Regions from separate parts of the Homo sapiens genome. Here regions 1 and 3 are each linked to region 2. The links come from fine-mapping of genetic effects on gene expression. A gene starts in region 2. Each other region holds a variant in brackets. All regions are shown on one strand. Distances are from middle to middle. Region 1 overlaps DSCAML1 (DS cell adhesion molecule like 1). Region 2 holds the start of TAGLN (transgelin). Region 3 overlaps PAFAH1B2 (platelet activating factor acetylhydrolase 1b catalytic subunit 2).

Region 1 (4,300 bases), 450 kb after region 2:
TGATCAAAGAAAAGGAGAAAGGATTCTAGAACGTGGAAGCAGTGGGCCCTATAAGGGGAAGAGCACAGGCTTTGGGGTCAGACTGACCTGTGTGTGTGGCTGTCTCAGCCCTTTCATCATGGGTCACAGAGCAATTCACTTCCTCTGCAAGATGGGAACAGCGGTAATACCTCACCCCTTGGTTGTGCAGAGTTGGAAAGAACACACAGCCAGACACCTGGTGCACACTCTGCCTCCTGGTAGCTGCTCCATAAATGTTTATTCTCCTCTCCAGCACCTAACCCCAGGCTTTAGCAATCCAGGTGGCCCAGAATCCAAGGCGGCGCCTTCTCCAGAGATAGGAGGTAAAATCTCTGCAAAGCCAAATGCTTAGTGCTTCCTGGGAAGGCAAGTGCCTGCCACAGAGAATCAGACCAAAGATGAGGAATGTGACATTCCCACCAGCTCAGGCCTAATGTAGAACAGCAAATAACAACTAAATCTTAAGCATCTACTCTGGCCAGGATTGTTCTGAATGCTTTACTTATCTCTCTCTCCCTCTCGCTCTCTCTCTCTCCATATATATGTGTGTGTGTGTGTGTGTGTGTGTGTGTGTGTGTGTGTGTGTGTGTATTTTTAGACAGAATTTCGCTCTTGTCACCCAGGCTTGAGTGCAATGGCATGATCTCGGCTCACTGCAACCTCCGCCTCCCAGGGTTAAAGCAAGCCTCCTGCCTCAGCCACCCCAGCAGCTAGGATTACAGGCGTGCACCCCCACACCAGGCTAATTTTTGTATTTTTAGTAGAGACGAGGTTTCACCACATTGGCCAGGCTGGTCTCGAACTCCTGACCTCAGGTGATCTGCCCGCCTTGGCCTCCCAAAGTGCTGGCATAAGCCACCATGCCCCGCCAACTTATCACTATTTTTGCAGGCCCAAAGAGAAAGCCTTTCCCTTAAAATTGGTCTCTCCAGCCCTGATAAGTTCCCCGTCTCCACTAGCCATATGCCTGTTCTTGCAGGTGCCAAAGTTCAAAATGTTAATATCTTTGACTCTCCCATCTCCCTGGCAGCTTCCCGTGGTCACCAGGGCTTGGCTCTGCATCTCTCCTCTCCTTCTGGGCCCCACTGTGACCCCACCACTCTTCTTCATTGATCTCCCTGCTCTGGGCTCGTCCCTACCAAACCCCTGTGAACTAATGGCCCACTTTATTGTAAGAGTTATTGTCTTAAAATAGCACGGGTTGAGAAAATTTCCACAATGGCTATTGAATAATGCAGGAATTCCTTGGTCCTAAACCTGTTCTCAACCTACCTTTCTGGACCTATCCGTAGGTTCCCTCTCCCTGAACAGGTCCAGGCAGTTCTCACAGGGAGATTTGTGCTCCTTCCGTGCCTCCGCCCCAGCCTGCCAAGTGCTTCCTCCTTCCTCTGCTCATCGGAACCATGGCCTCCCCAGGAGTTGCCTCTTGATGTGCTGCCTTGACCCTTCCTCATTGGAACCCCTTGCTTGGCTCAACCTGTCCTCCCTTTGGCTGGCAGGGCATTCTGGGGCACTGAGCAGCGGTTGGCACAGGCTAGGCCACTAACTGGGTTTCAGTTTCCTCTTTTTAGGAACCAGGCAAGGGACTAGAGCTGTGGTCCCCAGATACGGCTCCTCACTGGCATTATCTGTGAACTTCCAAAAAACACGGGTTCCCAGGCCCCGCCCTGTGCCTTCTCAGTCTGGATCTCCAGGGTGCGGCCCAGGAATTTGTGTCTGCCCACTCCCCACATGATTCTGAGGTGCTGCCAGGTTTGGCAGGACCTCAGCTAGAGATGCTTCACGTATGGACTGCCTCGTGTCAAAGGCTTTGCAGGCCCTCAGGCTGAAGAGGATAGGGCCCGGGTTTCTTCTGCATGTTGCCAGGATCCAGTTATGGGATTCAGAAGATACTCCACAGATGTTAGTTGAAGAAATGAATGAATGAATGAATGAATGCCCTGAAGAGATGCAGCTGCGGTTCTCTGAGAAACTGTCCTCTCCAGCTCTTTTCCAGGACAATTAGGTAGAAAGTCAGAAGAGATCACACGCAGCCTCGTGCAAAGAGGCTGTCAGAGCCTCTGCCAGTCTGAACACACACTTGGTGGAAGGTCACAGTACCGAGCTGGTGATCTGAGGCTGCCCTTGGAGTCCATCTGAGTCATTCTGTTTAAAGTGTGTGTGTCTATCTGTGTGTGTGTGTGTGTGTGTGTGTGTGTGTGTGCGTGTGTGTGTGTGGTGGGGATTGGGGTTCCCAGTGGGTGGCTTGCTAGGATGATTCAGATGGTCAGGGGTGGTTGAGGGCTGCTCAGGACTCGGCAGCTAATTGCCCAGCTTTCCACTGTGGTGAGATCTGGTGCTGAGCCCAAAGGGAACCCTGTGGTGCCTGGGCCTGAGTTGGTTCAGAATC[A/G]CCCAAACAGGCCCCAGGCCTCTGCCAGTTGATCAACCTGGGAGAGTACAGGTAGTAAGAGTTTCCAGGGCAACCTCCAGGGAGAGGACAGGGATGTCTCCTGTGTGCCTAATTTGTCTTCCGTGCCTTTGTAGCCTGGAAAGCAACCCTGGGTGGGACCTTGGAGGTCATGCCTGTGACCATGGGGGACATGGACATGGCCTGATTTGTGGGCACAGACTAAGGCCCACATTTTGACCGAAGCCTCAATCCAGGGCGCTTTGCTCTTACAGCCTGAAACAGCTGCTGCCTCTGTCCATGGCTACTGGACCAGGGTCTGCAGCTCCAGCCTCAGCTCAGGGATGGGACAAGAAACAGAAACAGATGATAAGGCCACAGAAATGCCACCCTGGCAGGGGCTGCAGTGGCAGCACTTTGTCCAGTGGCCCCAGCCCAAGGACTCCAACAGGCTGTGCTCCACAGTGCACTGATGGGCTCTGCTCAGCTCCTGAGCCCTGGCTACATCTCCAGCAAATATAAGAATGATTGCACCCCTAGGCCGGGTGCGGTGGCTCACGCCTGTAATCCCAGCACTTTGGGAGGCCGAGGCGGGCAGATCACGAGGTCAGGAGATCGAGACCATCCTGGCTAACACGGTGAAATCCTGTCTCTACTAAAAATACAAAAAAAAAAAAATTAGCCGGCCGTGGTGGCGGGCACCTGTAGTCCCAGCTACTCGGGAGGCTGAGGCAGGAGGATGGCGTGAACCCAGGAGGTGGAGCTTGCAGTGAGCCGAGATCTTGCCAGCGTACTCCAGCCTGGGCGACAGAGCAAGACTCTGTCTCAAAAAAAAAAAAAAAAAAAAAAAAAAAGAATGATTGCATCCCTAAAAATTTGTTGTCCTTCAGAGTTTCAAAGTACTTTCTTGACATTATCTGGTTTTATAGTCACTGCAGCCCTTCAAGACAGATGTCATCCCCGATGTCTCCCCGAGCCTCTGCAGAAATAGGTTCAGGGAAACAGCGGGGATGACAATGCCTACTCTGCAAGTGGTCATCTGTCAACTATTCTCTCTGATTACGGGTATTGGTCCAGCCTCCTAGGGCAGCCCAGGCTCACCTCTGGCTTCTGAGCCACTGTTTCCTCTAAGCCAGCAAGGCCTGGTGCTCTTGGCCTTGCCTCCTCCTTGCACCATCTTCCTTCTCAGGGTTCGGAGATCGCAAGGCTGACAGCAAACCCTTGGGCCACACTGGACTTATCGAGATCCAGCTGTCCTGGATGCCTTCTAGTAGGGGAAGCCCCAACTTCAAAATTGCTTCTCAGACTCCCAATATCTTTTCTTTTCTGGAGACAAGGCGTTGGTAGAATTAGTCTCCAGCGTGTTGCCTGCTCTAGTCCCCAGCTCTTAGTCTCCATGACGAGAGAGGTCACCTGGGCTACGCATGTGATGCTGCCATGCATATTATCCCCATGGGAAAGAACCAGGAGATGGAGCAGATGACACTGCCCAGACCTCCAAGACTAGAGGGCGGCGTAGCCCCTGTCCCACCACGCCATGCCCTTGAATTGGGGAAGTCACTTACCGTTCCCAGTCACCTCCCCATCTGGGACTGCAGAGATGGATGCAAGACCTGCTCCACCTCCAATACACCACCATTTAAAAGGTGACATACTCACACCTGAGGCAGCCACAGCTCTAGTCTTACCCAGGCTGGGAAGAAGAGGTAGAGGAGAGATGGTGATCCATGGAAATCTAAACCCTAGAGACACTTAGCTTCAAAATGCCTCAAGATTCTTGCCTGGGCCCCCGAAGCAACTGGATGAGCAGAAGGAATGCTGGGACTGGTCATAAAGTGCCCAGTCACGATGATAACCGTGCGTGCATTGGTAAGGGCTGTGGGAGGCAAGGTG
Region 2 (4,149 bases):
AGTTTCCGTCCAGTCTTCAGGCAAGTTCTGTGTTAGTCATGCACACACATACCTATGAAACCTTGGAGTTTACAAAGAATTGCCCCAGCTCTGGGCACCCTGGCCACCCTGGTCCTTGGATCCCCTTCGTCCCACCTGGTCCACCCCAGATGCTGAGGATGGGGGAGCTCAGGCGGGGCCTCTGCTTTGGGGATGGGAATGTGTTTTTCTCCCAAACTTGTTTTTATAGCTCTGCTTGAAGGGCTGGGAGATGAGGTGGGTCTGGATCTTTTCTCAGAGCGTCTCCATGCTATGGTTGCATTTCCGTTTTCTATGAATGAATTTGCATTCAATAAACAACCAGACTCAGTTCTTGGGGCCCTTGTTTGCACTCCCTCTGGGTGGAGCTGTTGAGGATGAGGGGAGAGGCGGAGGTCTTCCATTTCCCCATTCTTCAAGCCATGGCCCTACTGGGAACTGCAATTCCTTGATTCTCCCGTTTTTCCTGTCCCTCCAGCAACAGCATTAATTCAGTAAACATTTACCGGGGCACTGTGCTGGACAGAGGCCAGTTCCTGGAAAAGCCTTTCCCACGCCATCCCACTGCAGACATCCCTCCTTACCTCCCCAGGAACAGCAGTCTCTGCCCACCTGGCCCCGCCCACCAGACTGAGGCTCACTTCACCTCTGACCTGAGCGGCCCCCAGCTCACCAAGCCACAGGCCCAAGCAGTGCTCCCTGATGCGGCGTTTATAATCCGCTCAGCGTGCAGGCCGAGGCAGGAGGGTGATGAAAGCTGGGCAGGCTCCAAGAGGAGGGAGTTTTGATATGTCCCTGAAAGATTCATTTAGACTTCAGTCGGCTAAGGAGGACATGATTTGGGGGCCAAGGAATCTGTTGAATTCAGAACACAACCAGAGGTCTGCAGGGTCAGGGATGGAGGAGTGGGCTTTCCCCTCGCCAGGGCCCACTCCTCTTCCTGCTTTTCCTGCAGGCGCCACTGGGAGGTGCTATGGCTGTGCCTCCCCTGGGCTCTGGAGCATGTCCAGTTGCAGTGGGCAGAACTGCGGAGGCGGGCCCCTCCTCTGCCAGGCCTGGCAGCCCCCTCCTAGGGCCTTGTTTGGCTAGGGGTGGTGCCGGGTGTGGCAGTGTGTGTGTAGTGGAGAGTGTTAGGTCTTCCCTACCAGATGCCCTTGCAGGGGAGTGCCACAGCAGTCAGTCCAGGGATCCCACTGTTAGTCTCACCTTTTTTAACCTCTTATCTCTCCCCAAGATCCCTGAAGCCAGGTACGAGCAAGATGAGAGTGGGTTATCTCTGGAGTGACAGAGGCTGGTCTGTTTTCCAGGCTGGTAGGGACTGTTCCTAAAGGGAGGAAGGGATGATACCAGCCTCCTGAGCCTCCTTCTCCTGCGTTAGTGTCTCAGGCCCTGCCAGGCCTTATAGACCCTCTTATTGACACTGCCCACTGGATGGGGACCGGAGTTGGACTCAGCTTCTGCCGAACCCTCAAATCCCAGCCCCAACTAAAGCATATAACTCAAGACCTACCTGCACTGAAAGCTCTTCTCAACCTGAGCAGGGTGGTCCAATTGAAAGGGTGGGTCTGACCACCTCTCCTGCACCCATGCGGGTTGGCAGAGGTGTGCAGGATCTGCCACTTACCATTCACCATGTGGCCTTGAGGAAGACGCACTCGGGGCCTCAGTTTCCTCATCTATAAAATGGGGATGTAATTACACCCTCACACTGTAGCTGTGAGTATTCAATGAGAGCACTGCAAAGGGCCTGGTGTGGAGTAGGTCCTCAGGAAAGGTTGGATCCCATGTCCCATCAGAGCTAAAAGCCCCAGGAGGAGAGGGTGGCTGGTTTGTCCCCACAAACCCCTGGGATTCCCGGCTCCCCAGCCCCTTGCCCCTCTCTCCAGCCAGACTCTATTGAACTCCCCCTCTTCTCAAACTCGGGGCCAGAGAACAGTGAAGTAGGAGCAGCCGTAAGTCCGGGCAGGGTCCTGTCCATAAAAGGCTTTTCCCGGGCCGGCTCCCCGCCGGCAGCGTGCCCCGCCCCGGCCCGCTCCATCTCCAAAGCATGCAGAGAATGTCTCGGCAGCCCCGGTAGACTGCTCCAACTTGGTGTCTTTCCCCAAATATGGAGCCTGTGTGGAGTCACTGGGGGAGCCGGGGGTGGGGAGCGGAGCCGGCTTCCTCTAGCAGGGAGGGGGCCGAGGAGCGAGCCAGTGGGGGAGGCTGACATCACCACGGCGGCAGCCCTTTAAACCCCTCACCCAGCCAGCGCCCCATCCTGTCTGTCCGAACCCAGACACAAGTCTTCACTCCTTCCTGCGAGCCCTGAGGAAGCCTTGTGAGTGCATTGGCTGGGGCTTGGAGGGAAGTTGGGCTGGAGCTGGACAGGAGCAGTGGGTGCATTTCAGGCAGGCTCTCCTGAGGTCCCAGGCGCCAGCTCCAGCTCCCTGGCTAGGGAAACCCACCCTCTCAGTCAGCATGGGGGCCCAAGCTCCAGGCAGGGTGGGCTGGATCACTAGCGTCCTGGATCTCTCTCAGACTGGGCAGCCCCGGGCTCATTGAAATGCCCCGGATGACTTGGCTAGTGCAGAGGAATTGATGGAAACCACCGGGGTGAGAGGGAGGCTCCCCATCTCAGCCAGCCACATCCACAAGGTGTGTGTAAGGGTGCAGGCGCCGGCCGGTTAGGCCAAGGCTCTACTGTCTGTTGCCCCTCCAGGAGAACTTCCAAGGAGGTGAGGAGTGTGTGAACGCACCTGTGTTGGAGCACGGTGTCCCACTCTGGCGGGTCCCCAGGGCCTGAGCAGCAGCGATAGCCCTGTGACAATGTGAAGGGCCACAGAACTCTTGTATTCCAGTCAGGGGCAAAGAGTGGAGACGGAAGGCCTGTCCTTCTGACAAGCAGCCCCTTCCACTGTCTGACAGTGGGAGGTCACCCCCACTGTAGCAGAGGGGTGGGGGGCGGGTACTGCCAAGGAGGAGCTTTGGAGTGATAGGCGGGGCAGGCCTGGGACCCTTGGTCTTTCCCAAAGGGTGGTTCCCTTTCGAAGTTGCTATTCCAAAGGTAGCAGTGAGGATGGCACACATTTATGTAGCCAGGCCACTCCTGTTTGTCCGTGGAGTGGAGAGGAGCCACCCTCCTGCCCTCTCAGAGGTCCAGGTGTGCTCACTCCTATTTGGGAAGAGAGAAGGGGCACAGCAGCCCTGCAGGGGCCCCTGGCTCTGCTCGTGTTTCTGGGCTTCTGCTGGTAGGGGGTGCCACCTTCCCGTTTGACCCTGGACTTTCTTTCTCCACTGCCCACTTTCACCCACTGGGCAGCTCAGGGGAGGGGTCCTGGCAGGAGCCACAGGGCAGGAGGGTCCATGCCTGTCCATGCTGTCCTGGGAGTGTCTTGAGATGCCCCTGGGGGGGCCGCCCTGTAATCATCCTCCTCTCCCCCTCCCCACTGGCTCGAAGGCAGGACTCGGGAGGCTTCATCAGAGGACTCTAAAGGATTTCTGGGGATTCTCCACTTTTCGACCCTGACCCAGGAGGAGGAAGGGGAAGGATGGTGGTGCTGGGTGGGAGTGGGGATGGTGTGTGCTTCATCCCCCTCTGACCGAAATCCTAATCTTGTCTCTAGATCTGGGGGCTGCAGCGTTGTGTACCTGTCACCCTTAGCCTTGCTGCTTTGACCTGTATTGTCTGTTCTGACCCTCCTGAGACTGGAAGCTGGGGGTAGGGGACACACTCTCCTTCCATCCTGTTCCTCAGGAGCCCAGCAGGGGTGCAGAAGGGGAAGGCAGACATGAGGGCAGGTGGAGTGGGGGTAGAAGCAGGGCCAGAGACAGAAGGTGGATGCCTGTCTGGGATGGTGGTGCAAAGGCTGAGACAGAGGCTGGGGTGGATGGAAGCCAGGATGCAGGGCTACCAAAATCACCTGGTCCCAGCTGACTTGGGGGTTTGGACCACAGTTCTTTGTGCAGGAGTCCTTGGGTGGTTGGGGAGCGGGGGTGGGACACACAGGGTGAAGGGAGGGATTGGCTGTTTGTAGCTGAACAGCAGAACAGAGCACTCTGCCTTTGGGGTCTCTGGCATCACTGGCAGGGAGAGGGGTGGCTGGGCCAGGAGCCCACCTCATCCCCAGTGCTCAGAGAACTGGGTCCTCA
Region 3 (4,000 bases), 39 kb before region 2:
TGTATAAATTTGTTTAAGGGATGAATATAAAAGTTTAAACTGGTCTGGCACGGTAGTTCACGCCTGTAATCCCAGCACTTTTGGAGGCTGAGGCGGGTGGATCACCTGAGGTCAGGAGTTCGAGACCAGCCTGACCAACATGGTGAAACCCCATCTCTACTAAAAATACAAAAATTAGCTGGGCATGGTGGTGGGCGCCTGTAATCCCAGCTACTCGGGAGGCTGAGGCACAAAAATTGGTTGAACCCGGGAGGTGGAGGTTGCAGTGAGCTAAGATCGCGCCACTACACTCCAGCCTGAGTGATAAAGTGAGATTCCATCTCCAAAAAGTAAAATAAAAAGTTTAAACTATGTTCTTTAGCATTGATGGGTAAAATTTGTTTTCTTTTTTCTTTCTTTCTTTTCTTCATAGTGAAGGGGTCTCATGATGTTGCCCAGGCTGGTCTCGAATGCCTGGGCTCAAGCTATCCTTCACACCTTGGCCTCCTAAAGTGCTAAGATTATGGACATGAGCCACCACACCTGGCCAAAATCTATTTTAGAGAGTGTCTTGTGCCTTTATAACAGAAAGAGGCACTCTGGGCGGAGATTACCACTGTTTATAAACTTGGATTTGACTGAAAAGGATTGAGTCCTAGTTTGCCGGTGTCTCACATTTGGAAGTTAACAGATATTTTCAAAGTCTGCATTCAAATAAAATACATGGATCCTCATTGGATCATAGTTGAGAAAATGATATAATACTTTATTGAACTCTTGGAGCCATTTGAAAAATTGAATGTTATGGGATTGTTTCTTTTCCTAGTTATGATAATAGTTTGTGGGCTTTTTTTTTTTTTTTTTTTTTAAGATGGAGTTTCGCTCTTGTCGCCTAGGCTGGAGTGTAATGGCATGATCCCGGCTCACTGCAACCTCCGTCTCCCAGGTTCAGGCGATTCTCCTCCCTTAGCCTCCTGAGTAGCTGGGACTACAGGCACCCGCCACCACACCTGGCTAATTTTTGTATTATTATTAGAGGCGGGGTTTCACCATGTTGGCTGGGCTGGTCTCGAACTCCCAACCTCAGGTGATCTGCCCACCCTGGCCTCCCAAAGTGCTGGGATTACCGGCGTGAGCCACCGCACCATTTGGTTTTATAAGAGGATGTTCTTACTCTTAGGAGATGCTTGCTGATTAGGGTGAAGAATCATAATGTTTGCATTCTACTTCACAAGTGGTCCAGCAAACATGCACACATACATAGAAACAAAGCAAACATGGGAAAATACTATTAGTTGTTGAATACAAGAGGCAGATGTATATGTGTTCATTGTAATATGTCAACTTTCTGTGTATCTACAATTTTCTTAATAAAAGTTTGAGGAAAAGATAAACTTCTAAACAGCATGTTACATGTATTTTTCTATTCTGGTTTCAGTAGAATTCTGGGTTTCTTGAGAGTACTAGAATGCTCTGTATGGTAAGGGTGAGAAGAAAGTTCAAACAGTAATTTATAGAATGAGAGGAATAAGCTTTGGGGATAGACTAAAAAAAATGTTCAACAACAGTAACTGGTTGAACAGCTGTTCTTTCTAGGCCAAGAAGTCTCACAGGGAAAGAAATATCAGTTTCTTTTTTTATTAAAAAAATTTTTTTTTGGCTAGATGTGTGGCTCACACCTGTAATCCCAGCACTTTGGAAGGCTAAGGTGGGCAGATTGCTTGAGCTCAGGAGTTCAAGACCAGCCTGGGCAACATGGTAAAACCTCGTCTCTACAAAAAAATAGAAAAAATTAGCCAGGCATGGTGGCATGAGCCTATAATCCCAGCTATTCAGGTGACTGAGGTGGGAAGATGACTTGAGCCCCTGAAGCAGAAGTTGCAGTGAGCCAAGATCACGCCACTGTACTCCAGCCTGGGTGAGAGAGCCAGACGCTGTCTTAGAAAAAAAAAAAAAAAGAAAGAAAAAAGTTGTTTTTGTAGAGATGGGATCTTGATATATTACCCAGGCTGATCTCAAACTCCTGACCTCAAGTTATTCTCCTGTCCTGGCCTCCCAAAATGTTGAGAGTTCAAGCATGGGCCACCACACCCAGCCAGAAGTGCCAGTTAATAATTTTTTTT[T/C]TTCTTCTTCAAACCAGCACAACAGATTTGTTTTGGACTGTAAAGACAAAGAGCCTGATGTACTGTTCGTGGGAGACTCCATGGTGCAGTTAATGCAGCAATATGAGGTAAAGGTGGAAGGGATGAGCGTGGTTCTTGGCTACTCATGTATATCCATTCATTACTAACAGACTTTCATTCTGAGCTGAACTTACTTATTTGTGACTCTTAGAGAAGCCCTAATTGAGGTTATAAGAGAATCAAAGCTACCTAAAGGGATTTTCTTTTCTTTCTTTTAACTTGGCCATGTTCTGATCTGAAGCATTGTTTATAATGAAACTTCCTCTTCTACTCTGGTTTCCAAGAGGCTTGATGTTATATTTGTTTATATTTGCTCTACTCAGATTGTCAAGTTATTATTTGTATCTTAGTATTTCCTATTTGTATTTGCTAATAACATTTATCCTAGTCATGATTCTTACTTATATTTTGCCATTTTCCTATTTCATATATTTTTGTAGTAAGCTATTGCCAATCTTCTTTTAGGGTTTAGGCATTCTTCCATGGGAAATTTATTAGTTTTTTTATTTTTTAATTTATTTTTTTGAGACAGTCCCGCTCCATCGTCGAGGCTGGAGTGCAGTGGCACAATCTCAGGCTCAAGAGATTCTCATACCTCAGCCCCTGAGTAGTTGGGATTATAGGCATGTGCCACCATGCCTGACTGATTTTTGTATTTTTAGTGGAGACGGGGTTTCACTATGTTGGCCAGGCTGGTCTCGAACTCTTGGCCTCAAATGATCCACGTGCCTTGGCCTCACAGAGTGCTGGGATTATAGGCATGGGCCACTGTGCCCAGCCCCAAGGGAAATTTAAAAGATAGCTTTTTTTTTTTTTTTTAAGCTCTAGCACTCTAAATTTCTTCATCTCTTGTTTCTACTTCACCCTGTTTCTGTAGTTCAATAAGTGGAAAGGAGGGTTTGTTGAGTTGACAGCTTAATTATTAATGTTGATACCTTTTAGGGGGCATCAGATTGAGTTGTGACTCATTTCTTGAGCTGAGACCTAAGGCTGCATTAAGAACTGAGTTACACAATGGTATCTTAAAAGCCCTTAAACAGTGTCACACCATTACAGTGTTATCTTTGAATACAGAAAAAGGAAATTAATGCCTTGCAACACATTGCAGTCGAAAGATTAAACTTTCCCCTAGTTTTAGGTACACTAAATCAAGTTTTTCTTTTTTTAGATATGGCGAGAGCTTTTTTCCCCACTTCATGCACTGAATTTTGGAATTGGGGGAGATACAACAAGACATGTTTTGTGGAGACTAAAGAATGGAGAACTGGAGAATATTAAGCCTAAGGTGAAATGAAAGTTACTTGTCAATGTCATTAATCTTAAGTCTGTTTTGGATAGTTAAATTGTCTGAAACTGTAAAAAAAAATTGCTTCTTTAAAGACCTATTTCACTATTTTTTTCGTGCCTCTTTAAGGTAAATGATACTGTCATTGCTTGAGAATATGCCAAAATATATAATTAAGAAACTAGTGAATTGTTTGCCTATTGGGTTGTATTTATAGTTGTTATAATTACTTTCTTAAGTTGAAGGAAGAGTTTTTTTTTTTTTTGAGATGGAGTCTTGCTTTGTCACCCAGGCTAGAGTGCAGTGGTGTGATCTCAGCTCACTGCAACCTCCGCCTCCTGGGTTCAAGCGATTCTCCTGCCTCAGCCTCCCGAGTAGCTGGGATTACAGGCGCCGCCACTGTGCCCAGCTAATTTTTGTATTTTTGGTAGAGATGGGGTTTCACCATCTTGGCCAGGCTGGTCTTGAACTCATGACCTTGTGATCCACCCGCTTCGGCCTCCCAAAAGTGCTGGAGAATTACAAGCATGAGCCACCGCGCCTGGCTGAAGGA

Evidence for each region. PIP is the estimated chance that this variant, and not a neighbour inherited with it, causes the effect.
Region 1: its variant is the best candidate, but not a certain one, in a credible set for the expression of TAGLN in activated CD8 T cells (Schmiedel 2018, PIP 0.78).
Region 3: its variant is the best candidate, but not a certain one, in a credible set for the expression of TAGLN in whole blood (INTERVAL, PIP 0.66).

The regions. Positions count from the first base shown.
Region 1 is chr11:117,648,478-117,652,777 of GRCh38, forward strand. All of the region lies in intron 3 of DSCAML1 (DS cell adhesion molecule like 1), which reads right to left. Among named protein-coding and RNA genes, the nearest start is that of DSCAML1, 150 kb to the right of the region's middle. The variant A/G (reference allele first, on the strand shown) is at 2,411.
Region 2 is chr11:117,197,095-117,201,243 of GRCh38, forward strand. TAGLN (transgelin) reads left to right here and starts at 2,276. Exons shown (of 5, transcript NM_003186.5): 1 at 2,276-2,338. It overlaps SIDT2 (SID1 transmembrane family member 2), which reads left to right. Exons shown (of 26, transcript NM_001040455.2): 26 at 1-348. LOC100652768 (a long non-coding RNA gene) reads right to left here. Exons shown (of 8, transcript NR_045215.1): 2 at 2,757-2,818; 3 at 1,643-1,694; 4 at 1,225-1,342; 5 at 692-813; 6 at 136-310; 7 at 1-52. RefSeq lists an enhancer at 833-1,496 and a silencer at 899-1,193.
Region 3 is chr11:117,157,815-117,161,814 of GRCh38, forward strand. PAFAH1B2 (platelet activating factor acetylhydrolase 1b catalytic subunit 2) reads left to right here. Exons shown (of 6, transcript NM_002572.4): 3 at 2,120-2,209; 4 at 3,331-3,447. Among named protein-coding and RNA genes, the nearest start is that of PAFAH1B2, 16 kb to the left of the region's middle. The variant T/C (reference allele first, on the strand shown) is at 2,103.